4 linked regions of the Homo sapiens genome follow. The protein of the gene in region 2 interacts with the protein of the main gene of each other region in a pairwise test. Each region holds a gene or a part of one and is shown on either strand. Other genes may lie near its edges.

Region 1 (7,637 bases), on a different chromosome or scaffold from region 2:
CAGACTCTCTGCTACAAGTATGTGATGTAAAAATATTTGACCGGGGTATGTATACCACTGGAGGTATGCAGAAATTTACAGGGATATAAGATAAGATAATCAATACCCAGATTTTAATTTTTTATGTGCTATTTCCTAGTATCTTTTTTCCTACTCCTCCTTTCACACTAAAACTTTTCCCACTTTATGCAAGAAATACACAGCTCCCTAAATCTTACTCTGGTGCATTACCCAGGGGTAAAAGCCCCAAAAGTGCCATGATTTCAAAATATTGTTCTCTTCTATAATGGTATGATGGTAATTTTCATTTAAAGACCTCAGCCACAATTATTCACTAGTTTTAGAGAATTATTTTTTTTAGAAGGATCTGGTAAGAAAAAAAGACAGGGGAGAAAAGTTAGAAGTTAAGTGACAGCAGCTGGTTTTTAGCCAATTATTCCTATCCTGAGATGGCCAGGTGGAAATGACCAAATCAAATCTCCTTGTAAACATGCAAGGTATATTCTGGTGGAAAGAGAATGGGGAGTCCTTGTCTATGAAATGCTTTTTAGCAGGGTACACCTGGTCTGTCTAGATGGCCTAAGGTAAATAAACCCGGAATTGATCGATATATTAATACATGGAATGGCCCAGTGGAAAATGTCAGTGTCCACCATGTAATTATTTCAGTATAAAACGGAGATAGTTCCTGACTGAAAGAGCTCCATCTGTGTAAGTGTTCACCGGCATAACTTACTCAGAGACCTCACCTGCGAGATCTAAGCCAGAATGTGTTCTAAGGAATTCGGGGAAGCCCTGGGGACCTGGGTTAGTGGTTTTGGATACTGCCATTATTTTCTTGTGACTGGGTAAAAGAAAGCTCTGAATCTTGTCAGTCTGATTTGACAATCCAATCCTTGTTTTACCTCAATAAGATATATTAAATGTTAAAAATGGCTTTTTACATGTTTCCAAATATACGCAATTATTTTCTGCTAATCTCAAGCACCCCTTTGGCCTAAGCAGATCCAAGTTTTGTGATGCTTGCAGCTTTCACAGTTTGAATGGCCTTCTGTAGGAAAATAATAAAAGTGAATCAAAAAATTACTAATTTAAAAAAGCTGACGAATACTACAGATACCACAAAATCCAGAAAAATAACATCATTCTATTATTCAGGTGCTTGGCACAGCCCATAATACTTTCCCCCACCTTTCTTGGCTCTATGCTGATTGCTTCTTCATATGAAAATGATTTTGCAACATATTCCACAGAGATAACAGATAATTCAGTTTTTCCTCTAGCATAGTTTATCAAGATTAGCTTTTTAATATAATTTAGGAAAGCTCAGTTCAGCTTCATAATTCAGTATTAAGAGTGTCACAGAATTTCACAATTATCGAATTTGGAAGGACCACTAATACAGGTTTTGACCAGGTACTGAGGAGCAAACCAAATCCTTTGCTTACACTTTTCTACAGATGAGCTTCTGGCCCTGTTCACTTTACTTGTTCCTTCTACCACATCCTTCTGGTACTGGGCACTGTAGGACCCAAACAGAAAGCAATATGGTGCCTGGCCAGTGTCTTTCTGTTTGGATGCCAGGTAATTCTGCAGTCAGTAGTACGAATATTCCTAGAAGTCAGCACTAGACTACTATGGCTAGCAGTAACTTAACCATACGTGGAAGCTTCTGTGAACATAAACATACCTCATAAAACAAAAATTAACCACACTGACTTACTGCAGTTTTTTGCTTGTTTGTTTGAGACAGAGTTTTGCTCTTGTTGCCCAGTCTGGAGTCAATGGCACAATCTCGGCTCACGGTGACCTCCACCTCCCGGGTTCAAGTGAGTCTCCTGCCTCAGCCTCTTGGGTAGCTAGGATTACAGGCATGCGCCACCACGCCCAGGTAATTTTGTATTTTTAGTAGAGACCGGGTTTCTTCATGTTGGTCGGGCTGGTCTCGAACTCCCGACCTCAGGTGATCCGCCTGCCTCGGCCTCCCAAAGTGCTGGGATTACAGGTGTGAGCCACCATGCCTGGCCTGCAGCTTTGTAGTTAAGTTTTGAAATTGGAATGTGTCAGTCCTCCAACTTCATTCTTCTTTTTCAAGATCTGTGTGTGTGTGCTCATGTGGCTATTCTGGGTCCTTATATTTCCCTGGATTGTATGAATTTTAGGATCAGCTTGCAAAATTCTGCAAAAAAGTCATTTGGGATCTTGACACGGATTGTGTTGCGTCTGGAGGTCCATTTGAGAAGTACTGCCATCTTCCCAATATGAAGTCTTTCAACCCTTTAACATGGGATGTCTTTCCATTTATTTAGGTCTTTAAGTTCTTTCAGCAATGTTGTATGGTCTTCAGCATACAAGTCTTGCACTTATTACATTTATTTCTAAGTATTTTATTCTTCTTGATAATATTATGAATGGAATTAATTTCATTTTTGAAATGTTCATTGCTAGTGTATAGAAATACTATTGATTTCTGTATGTTGACCTGTTGTCCTGAATCCTTGATGTACTCATTTATTAGTTCTAACAGTGTTGTAGTAAATTCTTTAGGGTTTTCTATATATAACAATTTTGTGTATAGAAATTCTACATGTTTTAAACACATTCATCTTTATGGCTGTTGGAAATTTAAAAAATTCTATTTAAATGTATGTACTTTTTAAATGTAAAGAAGTAGAGTAGATGACCAATAAAAGATTTCCTTTCTTTTTTTGGTGGGGGCCAGGGGGTACAGGGTCTGGCTCTATTGCCCAGGCTGGGGTGCAGTGGCACAATCTCAGTCACTGCTGCCTCTGCCTCCCCAGCTCAGGTGATCTTCCTGCCTCAGCCTCTGGAGTAACTGGGACTACAGATGTGTACCACCATGCCCAGCTAATTTTTGTGTTTTTTTGTAGGGACGGGTTTCGTCATGTTGCCCAGGCTGGTCTCGAACTCCTGGGCTCAAGCGATTCTCTTGCCTCGGCCTCTGGAGTAGCTGGGACTACAGGCATAAGCCACCAAGCCTGGCCAATATTTGCAAGACTAAAGAAATATTGACATACAATTTCACAATATGGAACGGAAATATGAGTTCAAGAAGAAAAGAAATGATGTAAAATTTCCTTCTGTTAAAAGCTTGTTCATGTAGTTTTAAAAATTGATGATTTTAGATATTAAATTGGTATTTAGATTCCACTGGCTACATTTAAAAGTTATATAACTTTTATTTTAAAATGTTAATTTATAATAAAACAGAAGTTGCTTCTTTTGTAACTATTTAAGTCAGATGAGAAATTGTGATGGTCAATCCAAAAACGTGGAAGTGAGAATACAGTCATAGTCTTTGGGGACTCCTTTGGGGGTATAAGAGCAAAATCATTTTGAAACCACTGTATTAATATATTCCTAATAGGTTTTGCTTTTTGGGATGACTGACTGCTACCTTTCTGAGATTTGAGGGAGTCACTTAACTGGTCCTAAGGCCAGGCGCGGTGACTCACGCCTGTAATCCCAGCACTTTGGGAAACTGAGGCAGGTGGATCGCTTGAGGTCAGGAATTCGAGACCAGCCTGGCTAACTTGAGGTCAAGCTTTCAAGACCAGCTTGGCCAATATGGTGAAACCCCGTCTCTACTAAAAATACAAAAATTAGACGGGAGTGGTGGTGCACAGCTGTAATTCCAGCTTCTCTGGAGGCTGAGGCATGAGAGTCGCTTGAACCTGGGAAGCAGAGGTTGCAGTGAGCCGAGATCATGCCACTGCACTCCAGCCTGGGCAACATAGTAAGACTCTGTCTCAAAACAAAACAAAAACACAACAACAACAAAACTGGTTCTAAATGCTCCGGGCAAGTACATACTGCTTTTTCTTTTTTCTGTTTTTTTTTCCCTAAGGCAGCCCTATTGAAGAGTCTGTCATCTACAATATTTTACTAATTTAAAAACACTTGTCAAGAAGGGTAAAGTATGTTCATCTTGATTTTACTCTTTGTATCCCGGAATCAGGAACTAACAGTTTTATGATAGTGATATAGACTTTACACACACACCAAGACTTAAAACACGTGGTGCAGGCGGGCTTTTGGAAATTAACTGTGCTCTGGATACAGAAGTCACAAAGCTCAGGCTGCAGAGACATTGAGGGGATAATCAGCCTTTATTGTCTCTCGTGCACTGTGCCCAGCGCTCCCTCTAGCGGCTACAAGCGCTCACTGCCCACACTCTCTACTAGGCTCTCCGGAGGCCTCGGTTTCGCTGGAGAGAAAGAGATTGCGCAGGCGCCGAGCAGCCGACGTGGCCGCAGGGGACCGTGCCTGGGGGGGTCTGCGCGGGGCCGCTGACTCGCGAGGTTCTCTGTCGCCTGCCGCCCTCGCTCCTTTTCTCCCCTTCTAGAGTGTTACGGTGACTCTTGGGTCCGAAGGGGACGGACGTCCTCCCACGTACCATTTAGAAGGTCAGAGTGGGCAGAACCTAGTCTGAGCAGGCCGGTGATGAATCCGCTGGCAAGACGCGCGCGTGGGTACTCACGTGACCTAGGCTGCGGCGGCGGCGTGCTGCGGGCTCTGTGGCGGGAGCGAGGCCGACGGGCGGGGCCGCGCGGCCGCGTGACGCGAAGCGTTCGAGAGCGCGCGTCGTGGAACGTCTTGGTTGCCACGGCAAGCGCGCGCGCGAGGCCTTGGGAACCTCGGGACCGGCCCCCGGCGAGCGCAGCGGCGCCCAGTGTAAGGGAGTGGGAGCTGGTCCGTGCCGCGGCGGCCGCGCAGGGAGCTCTCGAGGCAACGCCGGGGCGCCCGAGGTCTGGAAGGCGCAGGTGGGGCGCGGGGGAGTTCACCCCTGCGCGGTCCCTTGGGTGGGCGGGGTGGGCGCCCCAGGCCCCGCGGACTCGGCTGGGAGGCTGAGCGGGCGACGGTCACGGGACAAGGGTGGAGGGGGTGGGGACCTCATCCGAGTCTCAGAGATGGAATTTTCGAGGAAGGGAGCGATTTCGAGAGAGAATAGTTTGAGAAGTTGTTCTCAGTCCCTTCTCTCGCGGGAGTGTGGTATTTAGGGAAGCTTCGGCCTCTTAACCCATGGACTGTTAGGATGGAGGGAATCCTTCCCGCTCGATTCCTATCGCGGAGTCCTTTCGGAGCATCGCTATTGATCATTCTCGCCGCCCCAACCCCGTTGTTTACTTTGGCTTCGCAGATCTCTGTGGTCTTTTGCCCTCCCGCAGCGCCCATGGCCCCGTCAAGGTTGGGCAGCCTTTCTCTGCAAGAAGGCCCACGAACAACTGCGGTTATATTGGGATGGATTGCGCGTGATTTTACTCTTTACAATACATTCTTTCATGCTTCCTAGGGATTGAGCTGCGCGGCGGATCCCTCCGACTTAATTCTGGGCCTGAGAAAAGTTTCTCTTGGAATGCGCAGTTTCGTGACGCAGCATTATTGCGTGACTCTAGGGCTGACCCAGTTTTTCACTTTCTAATTGTAAGGAAGTGCGCTAGTAGTCCACCGAGGATCCTCGAGGTTGGCCTTATTGTATCATAATTTAACGAATTTGCGTTCCAGGTTGTTACAGCCTTTGAAATAATGGCCTCATATTTAAGAATGTAGCAATTTTTCTTTGAAATTTCCGAAAGTGGGGAAAAAAGTAATAGAAGACTGCACCTATATGGAATTATTTTCTGATTCGCAGTTCTTTATAATCGTAGACTTAATTTGGTGGCTTTATTGGACCTGTTTGAAACAGGAAGCCTTTCTGTAATGTGGTTTCGGGTCGGCTTCACCTCTGGCACTCTCTGAAACGTCGTTGTCTATGGTTTCCCTAAGAAGCTAGAATGAGCGGGATGCTACGGAGGGAGGTGTATACAGGTGTTAGACAAAGCCCCCTCCGCTTTTTTGGTAAAGGGCCAAATAGGCATTAGATCAACTTGTGCTAGCTCTAAGGAGTTAAATGCGGTATTATTAAAGACTGCTTGTAATGTTGACTGTTAAGTGAGAGTGTTACTTCTTTCAGTGTTTATGGAATCGAACTAAATTGCTAGGTATTTTAATGCAGAATTTTACCTTTTCTCGGGTATTTTTTAAGACATACACAGACATACATGTAGTTATGTTGAAATAAATGTGTTTTATTAGAACGTTAAAAAATTAGAATTTAGGTGAACTACTGGTATCGGAACAGATTTTGGTTTGTTGTTGAAGACTGTACACTGGTGTAGGTACTGTTTAATACATCAGATTGTCATTTCAAAGACTTTGTCTTCTTAACTTTGAAAATTAAATAATGTGAAATAATGTGATAATGGTTTTTATCTTTTCAGGACACTTGATTGACACTTAATTGTGCTTAGGAATAGAATAGGCTTTTTTTTAAGTCACCATCCTCCAATCCTTATTTCTGTAAAATGTATTTTCTGAGACCGCTGAGGATATAGCAAATCCCAGTCACAAAATAAAAATGTGATATTTTAATATAAACCTTTTTCTTTCTGTGTTGAGATTCCCCAGAGATTAGACTGAAATTGACCATTAGACTTATATATAACCTCTAGATACCCAGGCTCTTCTCTCGTGTATCCTTTTTTTCTCTTTAAGATGGAGATGTAGCAAGGAAGGTTATTAAGCAATCCTGTGGAATTAGCCCTCCCACTCCACCCCTACACACAGGCACACTCTTCTTTCTCAGTAGCCATCTTGTTCCCTCCATTGACACATTATTAGGAAATCTTTCATCACACCGTATGTAAAATAAGCTTAGAAATAAACGTATACCCAAGGTAAATATTGCTTCTAGCTATATTCCTTCATTATGCCTCGCTTCTACTTTCAAATGCTACCTATTGAAGATTTAAGCCACATGACTTTCTACGACGGGACACTCTGGGTTTTCTTCACCCCTCCCTCACTCTGCTGACTTGTAAACATAGTAGGACTTTTAGATTTGGAATCAAACACATCTCATCTAATTTTCATTTTCATTTTTCTTTTCTTTCTTTCTTTTTTTTTTTTTTTTAAAGAGACAAGGTCTTGCTCTGTCACCCAGGCTGGTTGGAGTGCAGTGGTGCAGTCATAGCTCACTGCAACCTTGAACTTCTGGGCCCAAGCGATCCTCCGGCCTCAGCCTGTGCAGTAGCTGGGATTACAGGCGAGAGCTCATTTAATTTTCTTGACAGATAATCTTCTGATCCATGAACTGATTTGAATGTATCATTTACTAGCTCTCTTCTTGGGCAAGCTGCTCAATATTTGTAAAACATTTTTAAAATCAGATATCAACCTCCAAGAGTGAGGATTGGATAACCTTAGAAGGGTGCCAGACACATATAGAGAGCTTAACAAAAGATAGTAAATTTTGGTGCTTCTGAGGGCCAGAGACAGACCATGTCCATTATATCTTTGCTATATATTATAGTTGTGAGTGATTTTTAAAGCAGTACTTTTAATTTGCTTGTGAACCCCCAAATAATTTTTGTAAAACTGTCCCTCTTGCACACTTTTGGTTAACTTACAGCATTTTACATCATGCGTTAGTTGAAAAGAATGCAGTTTCCCACATGGTATTGATATTAACATTTTAATATTGGTACATCATTCTTTCACCTGTATTCAGTGGGGTATCATATCTTTGTAGTTTTATATCCATCACCATCAATTTTTAAAATACATTATATTTTACA
Region 2 (7,000 bases):
TGCTCTATTGCATAAAAATGGTCTCCCTGGGTTGTGTGCAGGAGCCAGCCTCATTTATTTTAAGCTGTAAACTATAAGTGGCTTTAACACCATGTCTCTCACAGTATGTTCATGCTGCAATCAAAGCGGCTCTGGGTGGGTTGGAGGCTAGAGTTGCATCTCCTGCTTGTTTGAGCCCTGCTGACAAGATAGCACAAGGCGGAGACCAGGCCCACGGGGAGTTGGCTGCTAGAACGTGTCTCCTGCAGTTTCCTTCACCCTGAAGCTTCCTTTTGCAGTTGCCTCCTCTCTGTCCGCCAATTTCTTCTCTGGCCTGGAGAGATCCTGCCTGTAGGAGGCTTGTCTTTCTGGGTTGGAATTGACCTAGACCCAGAGCTGGGCTGTAGTGTAAACTTTCGCCGGTAGGTGGTGCATGAAGATGCCCTCCTGCCCTGTGCTCCCCGAGCTCAGATCTCTGACACCTTCTCTGGCATCTCCATGTACCAGTGCCACACACTGCGGCCTCTTCTGGTGACCTTATCACCCCCTATCTTGATTGTTTTTCCCTGTAGACTGTGAGCCTTGTGGGTGAGGGAGTGCTAGACGTCCTTCCTTCTGTATTTCCAGCATGTGACACAGTGCTGGGCATGTGGATGTTCAGGAATTGTTGGATGAGTAAAAGAATGAATGAACGAATGAATGAATGCATGAATGAGAGAAGAGGGATGGAAGGAGACAAAGGGCCTTATCCTCCAGCATGAAGGTTCGTTAAGTTTGAGGTACACATTCTGTGAAATGAATCAGGCTTCCAGTAAAAAGATGAGTTTCCTTATAACCAGGGCTATCTCTTCACGATGGCCCCGACCCTGACTATCCCTGTTCTGGAAATGCGGTGATCCCAACGGGCGTCTAGGATGCTGGTAACATACTCCCAGCATGAGAAGGTGGGAAGGTCTCATTCATTGTTGTCTGTAACCGGCAGTTCAGAGGCCACCAGCTCGGGGAGTCCCGTCCGTTGCTTTTGAAATTGTCACAGCATTTCTTCCTTCCCTATCTTTCAGAGTGAAACATCTTTCAACCTAATATCAGAAAAATGTGACATTCTATCCATTCTTCGGGACCATCCTGAAAACAGGATTTACCGGAGGAAAATCGAGGTGAGGCAGAGGGCAGGGAGAAGAGCATCCGAAACTAAACAGGCTGGAGTTGGGAGTGTAATGGTGATGCCTCTTTGAAGGCCGATAGTTTGGGCCAGGTTCCTGGGCAAATGAAAGGATTCCTAGGATATTTTGATGTTGGACATTTGCCTTAGCGATAAATCCTTTCATTCCAAAAAAAAAAAAAGGATTTTTTTTTGTTGAAAAGTTTAGCACTATCCTAATGTTTTATTTACTCACCAATACTTCATTACAACTCTGTGAGGTAAGTACTTTTATTACCCCCATTTTACAGCTGAGGAAACTGAGGCACACAAATTAAGTGGTGGCCATTTAGTTCATGAGTGGCCAAGCTAGGATTTAAACCCAGGCAGCTGAGTCTCAAGCCACATTCATAACTGCTGTGCTGGGAGACCTCTTGGAGGGAAAGTTTACGCCAGTGAGGCTAAAGGGATTTGTGGGAAGGCTGCAGGGATCGCTCATGGAGCACTCACCCGTGGATGGCAGGAGGAGCTGGGTGCCCACTCTGTCCCTCTGGTAGGAGGCCCTGGCCGCTCTCTGCACTCTGCAGGTCTTCCTCTCGCTGCAGGACAGGCTTGCTCTGGCACTGGCCCCACAGGCCCTTCCCTTCAAGTTCCTCTCAGACACGCAGCACCGTTGCTGGGCCTCATTACTTATCCTCAGAGACTCTGATAGGTCCAGCTTGGGTCAGATGTCCATCAGCAGCCAGGGGTAGTGGTGTGGGCATCATGTGATCCGAACGCCGCTGCGGGGCACTTCCAGGGAAGGAGCTGGGCTCTGCAGCCCACTGACTTTTGTGTCCCCCAGAGCCCTCCTGGGAGATGAGCCAGGGGCTCCAGAGAGTGCCTGCCTCCCCACTGCCAGCTGGCCTCAGGTGGGCCCAAGTCGGCTCTGAGCCTTCTCATGGCTATGGGGGGAACAGGAACTCCAAGACCCCTTGAAAACCATCCTCTGCTGTCAAAATGCTGCTTATAGTCCCATGAGGCAGGAAAGGGGATTCCAGGCCAGTTCAGAGGGACACCTACTTACTGCTAGGAGTGGAGCTGGAGCCCACCCCTCCCGCCCCTGCTCACACATGCAACCCCCTACCCCCTACTTCTGCCAGCTCCCGATTCTCAGTGCTGCTCCCCCAGGAAGGCTTCCCCAACTTCCAAAATCCAGTGCAATGCCAGTGCCCCGTGGCACCCAGCCAGGCACTCCTGTCCCCTCACAATGCCACTGTCTAATTATCCATCTTCCCTCCCGGACCGTAGGCTGCCTGGGGGCAGGGACGGACACACAGGACAATGCAGTGTATTTTTATATCAGGGGAATGAACGAGGGTGGGAGGCTGAGGGGATAGCAGCCTGAAGGGAGGGAGCAGACATTTCCTGGGAGAGATGGGGGGCACCTGGCCAGTCCCAGTGCCCAAACCACACAGAGCCGTTGTTGGTGCAAATGCCCACATTTCTTTCTGTCCCCCTCAGGAACTCAGCAAAAGGTTCACCGCCATCCGCAAGACCAAAGGGGATGGGAACTGCTTCTACAGGGCCTTGGGCTATTCCTACCTGGAGTCCCTGCTGGGGAAGAGCAGGGAGATCTTCAAGTGAGTGCCGGGGCCCCTTGGCCTGTCAGGGCTGTGTTCTCTGTGCTAGGTCAGCCTCAAGTCTCTCGGAGGTTTTCGTTACACTCAGGCTGGTTAACCCAGAGAATGAGCTGAAGAGCTGCCTGGCAGAGGCGTTTGATGTTGGGGGTGCCCAGCTGCCTGCTGTGGTGAAGTTGGGGGCAGCCAAGGGGTGGAGGATGGAATCTGTGACCTCCCAGATGCTTTCCAGCCTCTGCTTCCACCACAGGCCTGGGTCAGCCCAGGTGAGTCGCAGGGAGCAGGTACTTCGTGACCCACTCTGAAAAGAAAAGAAAAGACAAACAAAAAGAAGCTTTGCCCCGGTGTTCTGCATAATTCCTGTTGACCTTGGTGTGGAGTGTGTGTGACCCAGGCATTCAGCTGGCTGGGCCTGTCCCTGAGGTTCATGCTGGAGAAGGTCTGTGTCCAGAGCTGCCCCTGTCATCTCGGCTAGTTCAGGGCTTCTCATATCTGAAGTTTGTACAAGGCGCCTGGTTCTCTAGTCCATAGCAAGAAAAAAAAAAGCAAAGACAAACAAACCCCTGAGACCTGGCTTGGACCCGAATTCCTGTCCAGTGGGAGCAGGGCAGAGCAGGGACTGCTTTTGTCACTGGCTCCCAGGAGATGCTGATGCTGCTGGGCCTCAAACCACGCTTTGAGGAGCAAGGAGCTAAGAGACCCACCTGGCTCTTAACCTTTGGGGGTCTCAGAGCCCTTAGAGGCTTTGGTGAGGGCCATGGGCCCTCCTCATCTGAGACCCGCACCGACATGCTCTCTGGAAACAGTACGGGGGGCAGTGGGTCCCAGAGCACTTCTTTGGCTGAGGCAGGTTTCTCAACGGCGGCATGACTGACGTTTTGGGCCAGATCATGCTCACGGTGGGGGCTGTCCTATGCATTGTAGGCCTATTAACAGCATCCCTGGCCCCCTACCCGTGACATAGTAGTAGTAACCCCCTCCCCAAGTCATGACAATCAAAACTGCCTGCAGACACTGCCAAAAACCTCTTTCGGTGGAAAAAAGTCGACCCTATCTGGTTGAGAACTACTAGGTTAAGGCCATCGTCTCCTGTTCAAAATATAGATGATCTCAAAGAGGGTAGAAGTTGAGCCATCTGTTCCTTGGCTGAACCATTCAGATTGTTTTGCCAGTGACAGACTGGCAGAGCCCCTTTTGATGGAGAGTCAGCTATCTCAAGCCATTCCCCTCCCCAACTTTCTCACAGCCCTGTGGGGACCAACACAGCACAGTGCAGGGATTATGACCCCAACTTCATTTCCCCACGACCCATGTCCCCTGGAGTTGTGCCATGCAGCAGCCCTGGGCTCTGAGGCCAGACCTCACTCTCTTGCTTACTTGCTGTGCGACCTTGGGCAAGTGACCTGATCTCTCTGATCCTGTTTTCATGCCTGTGGAAGGTGGACATTATAACACACTTCAGGGGGCTATTGTGAGGACTCAGTGGGTGATGCTGGCTAAGCCCAGCGCCTGCATTTCTCTCTGCACCAGCCCACGTGCTCTGTTTACCTTCACTCCGTCCTGTCTCCCCACTCCAGTCAGCACACACGGGTGCCATGCTCAGACCCTTCTCTAGGCTGTGGGGATACTGCAGTGAACAAGAGAGACAAAATCCCTGCCTTGTGGGGCTTGCGTCCTAATGGTAGAAGATGCACAGTACATGAGTATCACGTTTGAGGTGTCGGATGGTGATAAGTATTGTGGGAAAAATCAGGCAGGAAGGAGGCCGAGGAGTGCAAGGTCTGGGGTTGGCAGTTTCAAGCAGGGTTGGAGAGGTAAGGGCGGCAGGGCACATAGGGCCTTGGGCCTTTCTAAGGACCTTGGCTTTCAGCCTGAAGGACACGGGAGCCACCGAGGGATTGCGCAGCACGGGGGACCTGCCCTGCTGGCTGCTGTGTGCAGGACAGACGGGGGCGGAGACACAGCCAGGGAGATGTGGTCGGGGAGAGATCCAGAGGGGAGATGGCTGTGGCATGAGCAGGTGGATGCAGTGGGCATGGCAAGAAGTGGGCAGGTCTAGACACCTGTGAAGGTGGCGAAAGGATTCGTGCCCGACTCACATGTTGGACATGGCAGAGTCAAGAATGGCTCCCAGAGGTTTGGCCTGAGAGTTAGCAGGATGGAGAAGCCGTTTGCTGCAAAGGAGGGCTGAGGAATATCAGGAGCTGTGTTTTGCGATGCTGTCTGAAATGTCCGGGAGCCATAGAGTAGGGGTGTCTGGTGGGCAGTGGAGGTATAAGGCTGGCGTTCAGCAGGCAGGCCGGGGCACACAGGTGATAAGTCAAACCAAAAGGCTGCATGAGACCACCAGCATTTTTTCTTTCTTTTTTTAAAATATTTTCCTTCTCTCTTTATTTTTTCTTAAGAGATGGGTCTTCCTATGTTGCCTAGGCTGGCCTCGAACTCTTGGGCTCAGGCGGTCCTCCCTCCTCAGCCTGCATCTTCTTAACACAAAAACCGAGACCATGTCACTCCCAAGCTTGAAATATGCCCCTGACCTCTAGGAGCAGTGGAAACCCCTGACACCAACGCCCTCCACACCAGGCCCCTGCCTCTCCTGCCCCGTTGCCTACCCACCCTGAGTTCTAGGCACAGGGACTCACTTATCCTACACACACCAGAGCTTGCAGGCATGACATGCCGCCTGACGCTGCCTGGGCCTAGGTAGCCCTGCTTCTGACCCGGCTGTGGGTTCCTTGGGCCCCAGGCAGGCTGCTTCACTCACTCCTCTGTAGCTCCTTTCCCCAGTTGAACAGTGGCCATAGCCCTGTCACGGACATTAAGTGATTGACTCGTGAGCACTTGGAACACTGACCTGGGGTGTTCCGTGCTAGCTCTTAGCGTCAGCGTCATGCATCCTCCACAAGCCACTGTCTCCCTGTGTGCAGTGAGCCCAGAGCCACCCAGGCAGACACTTGTTCTCTGCTCAGTGCTGCTGCAGGGCTGGAGCAAGCGTGTTGCAGCAGTATGCTTGTTCCAGCCCTGTATCTTGCATACTTGCTCTAGAAGTATGCGAAGTACTTGTGTGTGCCAGAGGCTTGGAGAACACGCGCCGCCTCTGAGGGCAGCCACTGTTACTACCACATCTGATGAGCAAACAGAGCCTCATAGAGGTCAAATGACTTGCCAGAGGTCCCACACAGGCTTGTGTGCAGCCCCAGCGGTCTGAACTTGCACCCCCTCCAAGCCCCAGTGCTATCCTTCTCCCTATCCCTGGCTTGCCTCTCGGGGGTGCATGTCCTGGCCTGGGGGCTTGCCCCCTTCTGACAGAGCCTACGACTGCATGCTGCTTATCTCCGTGCCCCAGTGCCTGGCACAGAGGGGCCCACAAGTCACTGGCGAGGAATGAATGTGGAATGAGGCAGAGGTTTGGGGGTGGGAGGGGGGGCAGGAGAGCTGGGAGCAGAGCAGTGCACTTCATGGCCATGCAGGGACAGAGTGGCTAGAAGAGGGTGCCGGCCCTTGGAGCAGCCCTGGAGGACTGCAGCTGCTTCCTGGAGCTGCTTCTAGTACTCTGGCCATGGGCCACCTAGCCGCAGCTGAAGACTGAACAGGGGGTGCTGATGAGGGTGGCTCCTGAGTGAGAGGCGTTAGCCAGCACTGACCATCAGATCCTTGCCCTGGCCAGGAGGGGAAACCTAGGCAGCAGGTACCACTGCAGTGGAGGCCTCGTCCTCCCAGGCAGCTCTCCGTTCGCCCTCAGCACCCCTGCAGTCAAGGCGTCATCACCATCCACACTTGCGCCAAAGTGGAGCTTATGGCCAAAAGCCACAGGGGGACTTGACAGGGCTGGAGGGGACTGCGGCTAGAAGCCAGCACAGGCTCCATCCCTCCAATCCAGGCACCTCACCCTGCAATCAGGACAAACTAGTCCTGGCCCAGGCAGGACTGTTAGATATGCCAGGACCAGGCAGGGGCAAGCGGCATCTAGGCAAATACTCCTCCTTCTGAGTTAGGAGACCAGCTTCCCGTCCACACCCACCACCTTCTCCCTCCTCACTGCCCCCTGTCCTCCTACAAGGCACCAGGCTTTTCTGGAGCACAGCACCTTCTGAGGTGGCCCAGGCCTCTGTATTCCCTTGTGAACCTTCTGCCTCCTGGGTGCTGTCAGAGCCTCATCTCCGTTCCCAGGCAAAGTGAGGGGCTGGAGAACTAGGTGTGGCCTTAGTGTTCTGCGCCTGCCAGCTGGTCACCCAGGGCCGCTCACCTGGTCCTTGTGGGA
Region 3 (7,037 bases), on a different chromosome or scaffold from region 2:
CATGCCTGTAATCCCAGCTGCTTAGAAGGTTGAGGCACGAGGATTGCTTGAGCCCAGGAGTTTGAGGCTACAGTAACCTATAATCACACTACTGCACTCCAGCCTGGGCAACACAGTGAGATCCTGTCTCTAAAAATAAATAATTTTAAAAACTAAAAATATTTCTTAACTATACGAGTACACATTTTTGTTCATCTTGTATAACATACCATAGAATTCAGTCATTCAAAATATATAATTCAGTGGTTTTTAGTATTTCACAGTGTTATAACCACCACCATAATCAATTTTAAAACATTTTCATCACCCCAAAAAGAAACTCCATATCCATTAGCCATCGCTCCCATTCCTTCCCATCCCTGTACCCTATGGAACCACTAAACCTAATTTCTGTCTCTGGACTGGCCTATCCTAGACATTTCATCTAAATGGAATCATACAATAGGAGGTCCCTTGTGACCAGCCTTCTTTAACTAGCATGTTTTCAAGCTTCATCCACTGTTACAGCATGCATCACCACTTACTTTTATGGGTGAATAATTTTCCATTATAAATATACAACATTAAAAGAAATGTATCCATCAGTTCATGGACATTTGGGTTGCTTCCACTTTTTGCTACAATAAAAAGATGTACAATATCATTAACTATTGGGGAAGTGCAAATCAAAACCACAAGATACCACCCCATACCCACTAGGGTGGCTATAATCAAAAAGACAAGTATTAAAGATGTGGAGAGGCCGGGTGCAGTGGCTCACGCCTATAATCTCAGCACTTTGGGAGGCCAAGGCAGGAGGATCATGAGGTCAGGAGTTCAAGACCAGCCTGACCAACATGGTGAAACCCCGTCTCTACTAAAAATTCAAAAATTAGCCAGGCATGGTGGCGTGTGCCTGTAGTCCCACGCTGGGAGGCTGAGACAGGAGAATCGCTTGAACCTGGGAGGCAGAAGTTGCAATGAGCCAAGATTGCGCCACTGCACTCCAGCCTGGGTGACAGAGTGAGACTCTGTCTCAATAAATAAATAAATAAATAAATATGTGGAGAAACTGGAACCATTGCACATTGCTGATGAGCACGTATTAATAAAATGGCACAATGCCTCTGGCAAATAATCTGGTAATTCCTCAAACATTTAAACATAGAGTTACTATATTAACCCAGTAATTCCATTCCTAGGTACACATCCAACAGAACTGAAAATACATGTTCACACAAAATGGGTACACAAATATTCACAGGGGCATTTTCCTTAATAGCCAAAAGTGGAAATAACCTAGACGTCCATCGACTGATAGATTAAAAGAAAAAAGTGCTATATCCATGTAGTGGAATATTACTCAGCCATAAAAAGAAATGCTGATGCATGCTTCAACATGGATGAACCTTAAAATCATTATGCTAAGGAAAAAAGCCAGTCACATAGGACTACGTATTTTATGATTCCATTTAGATGAAATGTCCAGAACAGGCATATCCAGAGCACGTTAGCAGTTGCCAGCAGATAGGAAGAGAGGAAATGGGAGTGACTGCTAACCAGGTACAAGGTTCCTTCTTGGAGTGATGAAATGTTCTGGAATGAGACAGTGGTAATGGTTGCTAAACTTCATAAATATAATAAATTATCATTGAATTGTACATTTAAAAGCCTGCATTTTATGGCATATGAATTATACCTCAAAAAGAAAAACAAATTTAAAATAATCAGAATGATTACCAATTCGTATAGTTACAGGATATTCTAAATTATTTGAGGGAGGGAGGGTCTTAGTAGCTTAAGAAGCTTAAGCTCTTTTCCCCCTAATGTTCAATATGATCTTTTAAATTATCCTTCTTATTTTAGTCAACAAGTTCTGCTGTTTGCACCAGGATTATCTTGGGTCACAACATTTAGAAAAAACTAAATTAATTTAACAAATATTTATTAAGCACCACTTCTTATACGCAAGGTACCATTCTAGAGCTGGAGAAGTAATAGAGAACAAAACAAAATCTCTGTTCTCATTAAGCTTAAAGGCTTGGAAGAGGAGACAACAAACGAGTAAAATATATCAGAGCAGAAATAAAGGAAACAGGATAGGAAGGTGCTACTTTGCACAAGATGGTCATGGAAGAAAACTCTTAAACAGTTTGAGTCCTGAATGAAGTCAAAGAGTAAGCCATGTGGATATTTGAGGGGGAAAAGTAAACCAAGAAGAGAAAACAGCTAAAGGTCCTAGGTAGGAATTGGTCTGGCCAACAGCAAAGAGACTAATGTGGCTGAAAAAGAGTGGTAGGATAGGGTTAGAAAGGTGGTGGGAAAACAGACCAGAAAGTACCTTGTAGACAATGGTAAAGAATGAGACAGACAGGAAACCATGAGAAGATTGAGCAGAATGTCATTTTTTTTTTAGAACTTCTGTTATGTGGAGTACAGACTGTAGGGGGCAGTCTATACTTCCAGTTAGGAAGCTACTGCCAAAGTTTAAGTGAGAGATGATAGTGGCTTTGACCAAGTGGTATAAGTAAAGTTAGTGAGAAGTATTCAGACTCTGCATATATTTTGAAAATATTCTCAGTTTAGTATAAATTGGTATAATCTTCTAAGATAAGTAAGCAATATAAGAAATAAGAAAATTCTTTATCATTGTGCATCTAACAATTTATCCTTAAAAGAAAATCCAAAATCTGTACCAAAAGACTTATATAAAATGATGTCTGCTGCAACATTATTTACAATAGGCAAAAGTGGAAACCACCACGATAACCAAAAATAAGAAAGGTAAATTACAGTAGCATACCAGGTATGATGCAAAAGAATTAGACATTAGAGAGGATGTGTATTTATTTTTATTCCTTATATCAAACATATAAAACACATGAATTATAATTCCATTATTTATTTATTTATTTATTTTTAGGAAAAAGCCCAAAAGAATCTTCACTAAAATGTTAAAAGTAAACATCAATGAATGGTAGGACAGTGGTATTTTATTTTCTTACTTTTAGATATCTGTATTTATAATGTTCTCATGCTGAGGCTATCCCACTTGTATAGTTTAGTAGTGAAATAAAGCAAAATATCCATGTAACACATTATTCAGTTGCCCATCTTCTCCCATCTCTTAATCACAGGGAGAGTAATGGTTCTTAAACTGTCATTTCAACAACCATTTCAACCACAGATAGAGAAAACTTGGGAAAAATAGAAAATAAATCTGTCCACATTTCCACTCTACTGGTTTTAGTGTGTTAGGTAATAGGGTACGTAAAATGAAAAGTATCAATCTTTGCCCAAGAACCTCCTTCCAATGTAAACAATCATGTGTTGTTTGTATACATGTGTATACATGTGTAATTAACATTAACTTAAAGGAAAGTTAACTTGTAAAAACTGTATCACTAGCTACTAAATCAAAAAGAAAGAAAAAAAAAACTTACCCCTTTGACTGGCCATTTGCCCGATTTTCAAAAAATTTTATCTCCAAAATATCATTTACTCCCAAAGAATGAACTGCTTCAGTTAAGTCTTCATCTGTTGTCCACTGCAAGATATTTTCCCCCTCATTAACCATTAAAATAAAACCAAGATTTTTATTATCCCAGTCTAGTTTTTAAGGGGAAATTTGAGACATAAAAGAGAAAATAAATGCTGAGTGCAAATCTAAGTCTAGTTATGGCCAGTCAGACTCCAATTTTTAAACAGCACAAAAACCATCTGGGAACCTAACTTCATTCCCTGATAAGTATTTCAGAAACTAGAAGGTATATACCCTTGGGGTTACAATAAGATTTGACTCTCAAGAGTTTCTGGTCCCTTACAGCTTTAAACTGCTATGATTTTAAATTGTGAATAAAACCAATTTCACTTCCTCCCATTAAAGGAAAGTATTTTGAATTTCATCTTGTTTTTGAATTAAAATGCAGATAAGAAAAAACTAACATGTATTTAATATCTACCATATACTTTATGTATCAACTAACTCTTATAACAACCATATAAGCACTATTATTATACCCATTTTACACATGATACAATAGAAGTTAAAGAGCTTTAACTCTTTAACAAGGTCACAAAACTAATAATAGATGGTGGAGCTAAGATCCAAATACTTACTTAGCAACCATACTTTCATAACTACACTGCTACTGTCTCCAATTTTATAGAATACTCAGACTGGGTGGTGGGAGATCTGTTACATTTAGTTTTAAAAGAAATGTAAATAGGCTGGGCACCATAATCCTAGCACTTTGAGAGCTTGGTTAGGAGGATCACTTGAGGCCAGGAATTTGAGGCCAGCCTGAAGCAATATAGCAAGAAGTCAGCTCTACAAAAGTGTTTGTTTTGTTTTTAATTAGCCAGGCAGAGTGACACATGCCTGTGGTCCTAGCTACTTGGAGGCTGACACAGGAGAATCACTTCAGCCCAGGAGTTTGAGGCTTCAGTGAGCTATGATTACACCACTGCACTCCAGCCTGGGTGACAGAGTTTTGCAAATTCTGTCTCCCCCTGAAAAAAAGAAATGTAAATAAAACGTTTAAAAATACAGTGTTATTAAGGAAATGCAAGGGTGCCAAGTTTTATTGATTTTTGCATATACAAGTTTTTAACTTTCAAGTATACATATAACTAAGTAGAAATACAAACATTCTATAGGACTATTTTAATGATACTTAAGATGTAATATTAATAAAAAATAAATATACATATGTGCATTTAATGAAGCTCTAAATCAATAATCTTAGTCTCATGACAACCCAAATTAAAATATAATACGCACAGAAGTGCTTCTATAAATCAGATTTCAAATTTAAGGGCAGAAATAAAACTCAAATTTGTAACACAAATTAAATAATGGACACTATTTTTAAACCAGGAGTGATACTATGTCTCTTTCCTTTTACACTTGAATCCTGGTTTGAGACCCCATGTGAGCATTATTTTTAGTGAAACTGGGCTATCGGAAGCAAGGTAAAGTGGTAGCATAAAAAAGGTAACTGAAGACAAAACTAATTTAACTATATTTAACTAGTATCTCCACCAAGAAAAGTTGAATGACCACAAAACTCAAAACTAGAAGAATTCGAATTAACGATGTTGCAAAGATATTTGTATTTCCCTCCTCATTGGACAAGCAAACACATATAGAAAAACACAGTAACTTCAAACTTATAAAAATCTGGAGAAAAACATTAATTACTAGAGCAGTTCAAAATCAATTACCAATAATTTAATTCTTATATTAACTTCACTTACCCATGTTAGATTTCCAATATATAATGCAATTCTCTTTCCAGTATATGTATAGACAACATTTGGTGCTGCTCCTTTACCCACATCATCACCAACAGTTGGTGGGAGAGTATCCATGTAATCTCGGTCTTCTGGGGCATCTCCATTATTTGCAGATGGAGATATGACATCGTCATACAAATCTATCTGATCATGCCCACCATATTCAGCTTCCTGAGATACAGAAATAATGCTCTAGATTATACAAAAGTCAAAATACTACTAAAATAGACTTGAATACAAATTCAACTTTTTGTTTTAAAAATCTGATGGAAAAAGGCCAAGGATTTCAGTACAAATCTTTTTCCACTTTATGCAATAGATGTATTCTTGAACAGGTCTAAAAAGTGAATTTCTTGCCGGGAGTGGTGGCTCACACCTGTAATCCCAGCACTTGGGAGGCCGAGGCAGGTGGATCACTTGAGGTCAGGAGTTCGAGACCAGCCTAGCCAACATGATGAAGCCCTGTCTCTACTAAACATACAAAAATTAGCCAGGCATGGTGGCACACGCCTGTAATCCCAGTTACTCAGGAGGCTGAGGCAGGAGAATCGCTTGAACCTGGGAGGCGGAGGTTGTAGTGAGCCAAGATCGTGCCATTGCACTCCAGCCTGGGCGACAGAGCAAGACTTCATCTCAAAAAAAAACAAAAAAACAAAAAAAGGGGGTTTCCTTTATTTCTTTTCTTTTTTTTCTTTTTTTTTTTTTTTTTGTAGAGACCAGGTCTCGCTACATTGCCCACGCTAGTTTCGAACTCCTGAGTTCAAGCAATCCTCCTGCCTCGGCCTCCCAAATATAGGCTTGAGCCACTGCACCCAGCCTAAAGTTAATTTCTATATAACGAAACCTACTTTTCCACTGATATTTATTATAATATAAAAAATAAGTTCTTTTGGAAAAAGACATGGAAACAAAATAAGTAACATGAAACTTTCCTTGGAAATACTCTTAACTAGAAGTAATAACACACAAATGCAAATAGACAAGTTTTTTTTAAACTGACAGTAGAAAAATCACCCCAAAATCCAAAGCCATTATATCTTTAATATGACCACAGAAAAATAGTTATTATTTTCTATAGTATTCAGATCTTGTTTTCCAACCTTGAGGAAGCTACCAGTATTAAAAAAAAGCATAGTGAGCTGAGCCATAAAAGAAAGAAGAAATATGGGTATGTAAATAATTCAAAATGTCGTAATAAATGAACAAGGTAAAGAGAAATAAACGAAATACATGTAGAACAATCCAAATTAATTATCTTGCAAGTTGTATTATTCTCAGTGAACAAAGAGCTAATGCTTACCTGAATTCTTAGTTATCTAGTCAAGCAAATTAGCAAGAGAAAAGCAACAGACAACAAAAAGAGTATAGTAAAGCTTTGGCACTGTCACCAGCAGAATTAAAGCAATGCTACTGGGTGTCACTTACATGCCTAAATGATAATCAGGGAAAAGGAAAACTAAAATGAAACAGAAACAGGAGCAGGAAAAAAATAGAAGAGGGTTCAATTTGTAACTAAGTACATGAAAAATGAAATGTAGGTAAAAGCAGAACACTCAACACTATTTAATTGCCTTTGATAACCATTAAATAGACCATAAGCTTGACTAAGCCTGTAGCACAGGAAAATCTCCATTTTTATCTTCTACTCTCCCTTTCCACAACTAAGTACTTGTATTGGTGTGAACCATTTTATTCTTATGACATAGAACATCTGACATAAGGAAAAAGACAATTATAAGACAACCTGAAAGTTCAGACGT
Region 4 (5,737 bases), on a different chromosome or scaffold from region 2:
CCTAACTGTCTCAGACCATCCCTGTCTTTCAAAGAGCACAGCCAGACCGGAGGGCAGAAAGCCGTGGTCAGCTATCTCAGAAAGAGGGGCAGGGATTTGCTGCACTCAGGCCTCTCCACCCCAATGTCCTGGGCCAGTACCTGGAGGTGCAGGGACCTCTGCCTCCTGCCCCACCATCGGAGACAGCCCAGAACTCTCTCCTGTTCCCCCAGAAGCAAAGGCGACCCTGCCCGCCCCACACTGCGGGCACTGGCAAGGAGCGGCTGGCGGCGGGCAGCCAGAGGGCTGAGGGATTCCTTCTGGTCTGACTGCGCGGGTGGTTTGTGGGCAGGAAGTGCTGCTGGGGAAGGTTCCCCCACCACAGGCAGCAGCAGCTCGGACCCAGGGCCCTTGTCCTCCCCAGGTTCAATTCCTCAGGACACACCAAGGAGCAGAAGGTAGCCAGGGTCAAGCCCCAGGGCACTTCCTGGCCTCTGGGGAGGCTGCTTGGAAAAGAGGGTGTGGACCAGGCCCAGCAGATGACACGATTCATTTATTCATTCAAAGCCGGTTCCCAGCGCCTTTCACACCAGCCCCGCAGGACTGGATGAGGGTGTCCTGCCCGCCCATTCCTGGGCCTCCACCCTCCCAGCAGGAGTCTCACTGAGCCACAGCCGGATGGTAGAAAAGCAAACTGGCCAAGTGATTTATTTGCAATGGGCACAGTGATGCAAAAACAAGATATTAAGACTATAAAATATGTGACTACAAAGAACCAGCGAAATAAATACATAGATATTAGATAGTCCAATAACTTAAGGCGCCCGTGCAACGGAGCGAGGATCCGCGCGCACGGGAAGTTCTTCTGCTGCAGGGCTGGAGAGCGCCGGCCACGTCCTAGCCTCGGTCCGACTCGTCCAGCGTATGGCCCTGTGGGGAAAGGACTGGGTCAGAGAGCTGTGCCAGGGCCGGTCCGGGTCCAGCCTGAGGGGCCCCGAGACCCTGACGCGAGGGGGCCAGCGCGATTGCGGGGCGCCGGGTCCCCCAAGGAGGTGCAGCGCCCCCGCCCCGCCGTCTGGGGTTGAAGTGGTTTTTCCCAAAGGCCCCGGTCCCGGCTGTTAGGGCGCAGGGCTCGCCGGGACGCGGGCAGTCACTCACCGCGGCGGGCTCATGGCGTGCGGGGTTTGGGCTGCGGGGATGGCCTGGAGGGCTCCGAGGGCTCGGAGGGTGCGGCGGCCGCGGCAGCCACGGCGTCCTCGGCGGGTGCGGCGGGTGCGGTGCGTTCCTGGCGGCTGCGAAAGTCCTGCAGGGCGCGGCGGTTCTGGAAATCGATGAGCGCCAGCGCGATGGCCGCGTTCCAGCAGCTCTCGCCCGCGCAGCGGAAGTCGATCTCCTTGTGGTCGGTGGTGACGATGGTGAAGTACACGTACTTGCCCGTGCGCTCCACGCAGTCCACCTTGAGGATGGAGTGGAAGCGCAGCTCCTTGGGGCGCGCGCGGGGGCTGGCGGGGAACAGGCTCAGGCGGTCGGAGGTGAGCACCCCGCGCTTCTTCTTCCATAGCTGGAAGAGGCTGTCGCTGCGCTTCTCCAACTCGCCCTCGCGTAGCACCTCGTCGGGGGATTTCATGTCGTGCCGAGCGCGGGACTGGGAGCGGCAATGCGGGCGGTGACGGCGCCGGCTCTGCTCCTCGTGGCCCCGGCGCGGCCTTTATAGCTGCCCCTCCCCGCCCCGCCCCTCCCCGCCCCGCCCCGGCCCTCGGGCCACCCCGCCCGCCTGAGCCCCGCGCGCCCCGGGCCATACCCTCCCCAAGCCCAGCCGTCCGGGCCCGCACCGTCGCGTCCGCGCTCTGGTCGGTCCCCGGCCGTCCCCTCCCATCTCAGAAGCCCGCGCTCCTCTTGCCCCCCGTGCCCCAGCTGTCCGGCCCCGTGGGGTGACTCGAGGTCCCGCCCCGCCCGGGCGCTCGCCCGCACCGTCTCGCAGGCCGGCCCCGCGGAAGAATGCGCTGCAGCCAGCCCTGCCCGCGATGACTCACGCCGGGGAGCCCCGGGAAGCACCCGCGGGCCCGGGGCCGGCCCACCGTGGGGAGACAGCCGGGACCAGACCTTCACCCTCCAGGCGCCCCAAGTCCAGCCCTGCCGCTCTCGGGCTCCCGGGGCAGAAGGAGGGTCGAGGCCCCCTTCCTTACTCCCGAGCCCTGGCCGTTCCGTCCTGTTCGGGGGCCTTTCCCAGGGCCGCCCAGAGACCCTCTCCGAAAGTGGCCCTGCCCTAGCGGACCGAGCTCCTATCTTGCCACCCACGGGCTGCGCCAAGAACGACCACCTCTCTTAGCCTCGGTTTTCGCTTCTGTGAAATGGGAACAGTAACCTTTGCTGGATTAGGGAACACGTGGAAAGGGCTAGACCAGCAACCCATAGAGCTCAGAAAATGGAAGGGGAAGAGGAAGCCCGTTCTCCTCCCTGCGCCCTCGTAGTGTCCCGAACTGGGGTACGGACTGCTCCGACCGCGCCCCCACGACCCGGACCGGAGAGAGGTCCCAGGAGCTGAGGGGTTCGGGCTGGGCCGCGACGCCCGCTCTCTGGGATCAGCCTGGGGGCGAGGGTCGGCGGGGGCGGCTGAGTCATCGCTTTCCAGCTGGGCAGACGGGCGGTTTTATTTACCCTCTTCCTTTAAAGGGTTTAATAGACAGGAAGCGAAAGCCGGCTCTTCCCGGGTTCCCAGGGGTGGGGGTGGAGCCGGCCGAGAGGACCCCAGAGACCCCGGCTACTACTCCACGTCTCCCACCTTCCCGCACCCCTGCCCCCTAGCTGCGCCCTGGGGTGGTTACAGCAGGAAGTCCCAACTCTGGGGTCAGAATTGGCCTCAATGACGGGGCTCACGCAAAATGAAAACGAGAGTCCCCTGATTCAAAATGTATTTAAAATGTCAAGACAGTGGCAGCAGAGCGTAAAACCCAGACCTGGGACCAGCCCTACCTCCACCTGCCCTTCAGGGTCACTGTAAAGGATAAAGAGACGTCCGGCTCAGAGGAGCGCCCCAGACCCGGTTCTGTGAATGGCATGCAGGTAGCAGCTGCCCGGTGGTCCCACCGGTGTGGCCAGAGGACCTGGCAGTGGGCAGGGATGTGGTGTGGAGGGGCAGTGCCGGCAGAGGGCAGGGTTGGGCTGTGCCAGGGTTCTGGCCTGGGAGTGAGACACCTGCCTGGGGCCGGCGGGTCAACACTGCCCCCTACCTGACACCTGTCCTTGCAGCAGGGCTGGGATCCTGTGGTGAGGGAGCAGCAGGTAGGGTGGGTGGGTGAGGGGAGGTCAGCCTTTGGCGGGGAGAGGGGATTCGAGCATTGTTCCGGAGAGGCTGCAGGAAGGATTCGGACTCTGGTGTCCCTTCTTTTGCTTCCAGAGGGCCCTGGGCTGCCGGACAGTGGGACCTGGGCAAGAGGCACCTCTGGGCAGTGGGAGACCAGGAGAAGCGGCCGGGGGCAGAGCGCTCTGTCACTGCGCCAGCCCACAGGTGCCTGGAACACCTCCAGGCCCACCAGCCTGCCTACCCCATTGAGGGGCCAGCCAGTGGAACTTCGGCTCCAGGCAAATCCCCCGACACTCGTGGTTGCTTAAGCACCTACTGTGTGCCTGCAGGCCTGGCTGGTGCTGGGACCCCAGAGGAGGGGAGAGGAATCCCTCTAAACCCCAGGGGCACAGCAGGTACATGAGGATGGGGATAGGGGTCGGGGGTACTGGAGGCCAGGAGGACAGCTTGGAGGACTCTGTGGGGAGGGCGTGCCCTCGAAGATTCCAAGGAGACCTTGAAGGGCCAGTGGTGCCCGTATGCCACCACTGTGCCCAGCCTCCACCTAACCCAGAGAACTCCCCAAAGTGGGCACTCCAGCCCCTGTTCCACAGAAGAGGAAACTGGTTCAGGATGGAGAGGGCCTTGGGGAAGGGACAGAGAACAGGCAGGAGCAGATAAGGGGCTGAGAGAAATGAGGGGGAGGAAGAGGGTTTGGAAACCAGGTGAGGCCAGGTGAGGTGTGCTCCCCCAGCCCCGCCCAGCTCCTCTCTTTGCCTGTACCCCAGTGGCCCTCTCAAGGGAGGCTGGGAAACTCACTCCCCTGGGGGCAGGACTTACAACCCAGGGGTGATGCTCTGACAGGTGGGGCAGGAGCTGGGAGGCCAGGGGGCAGGGTGTGCAGCCGAGATTCAGAGGCCCTGCCCTCCCTAGGGGATTTCCTGCCCACTCAGCCCCTCTCTGCTATTCCCCTCATGGACACTGTGAAGACCTGGGGGGTATGGGGGTGGATGGCCCTTTAGGGGCTGCTGGAAATCAGGTCTGAGCCCTGGAGGCCAGGCCTCCCCAGGCAGCTTCTCTGCCCACAGTCCCTGCCCCAGGGGCTCAGTTGTAGTGGCCCTGGCCTCCCCAGCAGCTGCTAGACACCCTGGGCCCCTGCTCGGCCAAACCAGCCTGAACCTGGTTGCCAATGTGGGGGCTGGAGGGAGCCGACTCCCAAGCCTTACCAGCCCTGGACCAGCAGGTGACTTCAGGAGCCCCCAGGGTGTCTTTATGGACATGGGCAAAAATAAACCACGGCCTTAGGAGGTGAGAGGGGCTTGGAGGACACCATGCCAACTTGGCAGGTACTTGCACACAGGGGCTGCCCCATCCTCTCTGCGTCCACCATCCACCCGAGGGGCTTTACCACCACCACTAACTCACACTGCCGTCTGCCCCTCTGAGCCACCCGCCCTCTGCCAGCCCCCGCTCGGCCTCCCTTGCCTGAGGCCTGAGCCTCACCGCCTCACCTGGTCCCACCTGGGGCTGAGCGGTGCCCCCAGGAGAAGCACTGGCCCCAAGCTGCAGATGCAGAAAGGGTGGCTCAGAGAGGTGCAGTGACTTGTCAAGGTCACCTTTCCAAGGAGGGACCCTATCTCTATCCCCCAGAGCAGGCCTGCCTGAGGGTCCCCTCTGGAGGATGAGGGCTGTGACACTCACTTCCTGGGATGTGGGGGAGGGATGTTGAGGCAGAAGAGTGCTGACACAGGGACCCCACATGAGGGTCTTTTGAGGAATGCCCCTCCTAGAGCCATTTGATAGCCAAGAGCCTGGGAGCTTCTCCAGCACAGCACAGAGATTGGAACCCGGCGTGGATTCGGCCACACCCCATGGGACCTGCTTCTACGAGGGTTCTGGACCACTCACGTGCTGGAGGCGGAGGAACCACCTGCCGGAGAGATGCCAGGGCCAGGCACCGGCAGGAGAGTCCGTGTGGCCCTGCCCCGTGCTAGTTCTGTGCGGTCATTTCTCCCTGTTGAGACTGCTTTCTTGGGTTTGCAGGGAACACTGGGTGGGGGTTTCAGAGAGGTGGTGACTCACCCAGGTTACACAGTGGCCAGTGCGGCCACATCCACAGCTTCCCCGATTCTGTGGCACCCTGTGGCTCGGGGCAGGAAACAGCCCTGATGTTCTGTGACTGCTTCTCAGGATGGGGAGGGGGCTCTGCCTCGAGTTGGTGGTGTCAGGCAGCATCAGTCCAAACCGGGTTTACTGATATTTATCTGAGGGGCCACATCCAGGATTCATGCAGAGCCTGAGCCAAGGGCCCCCACCCCTGGGCAGGCATTGTACAGTCTGGGTGCCCAAACATCTGGCCTGGGACACTGGCTGCCCTGTCCAGCTGCCTGGACCCTTGGCACCGGAGCCCAGCTGTGTGAGGCTGTCAGCAGCTGGAGTAGGATGCGGGCACCTCTCCGAAACTCCCTGAGTGAG

The links.
Region 1: the proteins of OTUB2 (region 2) and SPART interact in binary tests that used the Homo sapiens proteins (3 or more experiments, as listed by UniProt).
Region 3: the proteins of OTUB2 (region 2) and CPSF6 interact in binary tests that used the Homo sapiens proteins (3 or more experiments, as listed by UniProt).
Region 4: the proteins of OTUB2 (region 2) and PHLDA2 interact in binary tests that used the Homo sapiens proteins (3 or more experiments, as listed by UniProt).

What each region holds. Positions count from the first base shown.
Region 1 is NC_000013.11:36,343,372-36,351,008, reverse strand, and holds the start of SPART (spartin), read left to right. Parts: upstream 1-4,614; 5' UTR 4,615-4,784; intron 4,785-4,875; exon of another isoform or gene 4,876-5,208; intron 5,209-5,434; exon of another isoform or gene 5,435-5,829; intron 5,830-7,637. UniProt on the Homo sapiens protein: Lipophagy receptor that plays an important role in lipid droplet (LD) turnover in motor neurons.
Region 2 is NC_000014.9:94,036,340-94,043,339, forward strand, and holds part of OTUB2 (ubiquitin thioesterase OTUB2), read left to right. Parts: intron 1-1,040; coding exon 1,041-1,136; intron 1,137-2,623; coding exon 2,624-2,742; intron 2,743-7,000. UniProt on the Homo sapiens protein: Hydrolase that can remove conjugated ubiquitin from proteins in vitro and may therefore play an important regulatory role at the level of protein turnover by preventing degradation.
Region 3 is NC_000012.12:69,249,540-69,256,576, reverse strand, and holds part of CPSF6 (cleavage and polyadenylation specificity factor subunit 6), read right to left. Parts: intron 5,449-7,037; coding exon 5,239-5,448; intron 3,527-5,238; coding exon 3,423-3,526; intron 1-3,422. UniProt on the Homo sapiens protein: Component of the cleavage factor Im (CFIm) complex that functions as an activator of the pre-mRNA 3'-end cleavage and polyadenylation processing required for the maturation of pre-mRNA into functional mRNAs.
Region 4 is NC_000011.10:2,927,759-2,933,495, forward strand, and holds PHLDA2 (pleckstrin homology-like domain family A member 2), read right to left. Parts: upstream 1,663-5,737; 5' UTR 1,607-1,662; coding exon 1,148-1,606; 3' UTR 1,138-1,147; intron 910-1,137; 3' UTR 515-909; downstream 1-514. UniProt on the Homo sapiens protein: Plays a role in regulating placenta growth. May act via its PH domain that competes with other PH domain-containing proteins, thereby preventing their binding to membrane lipids.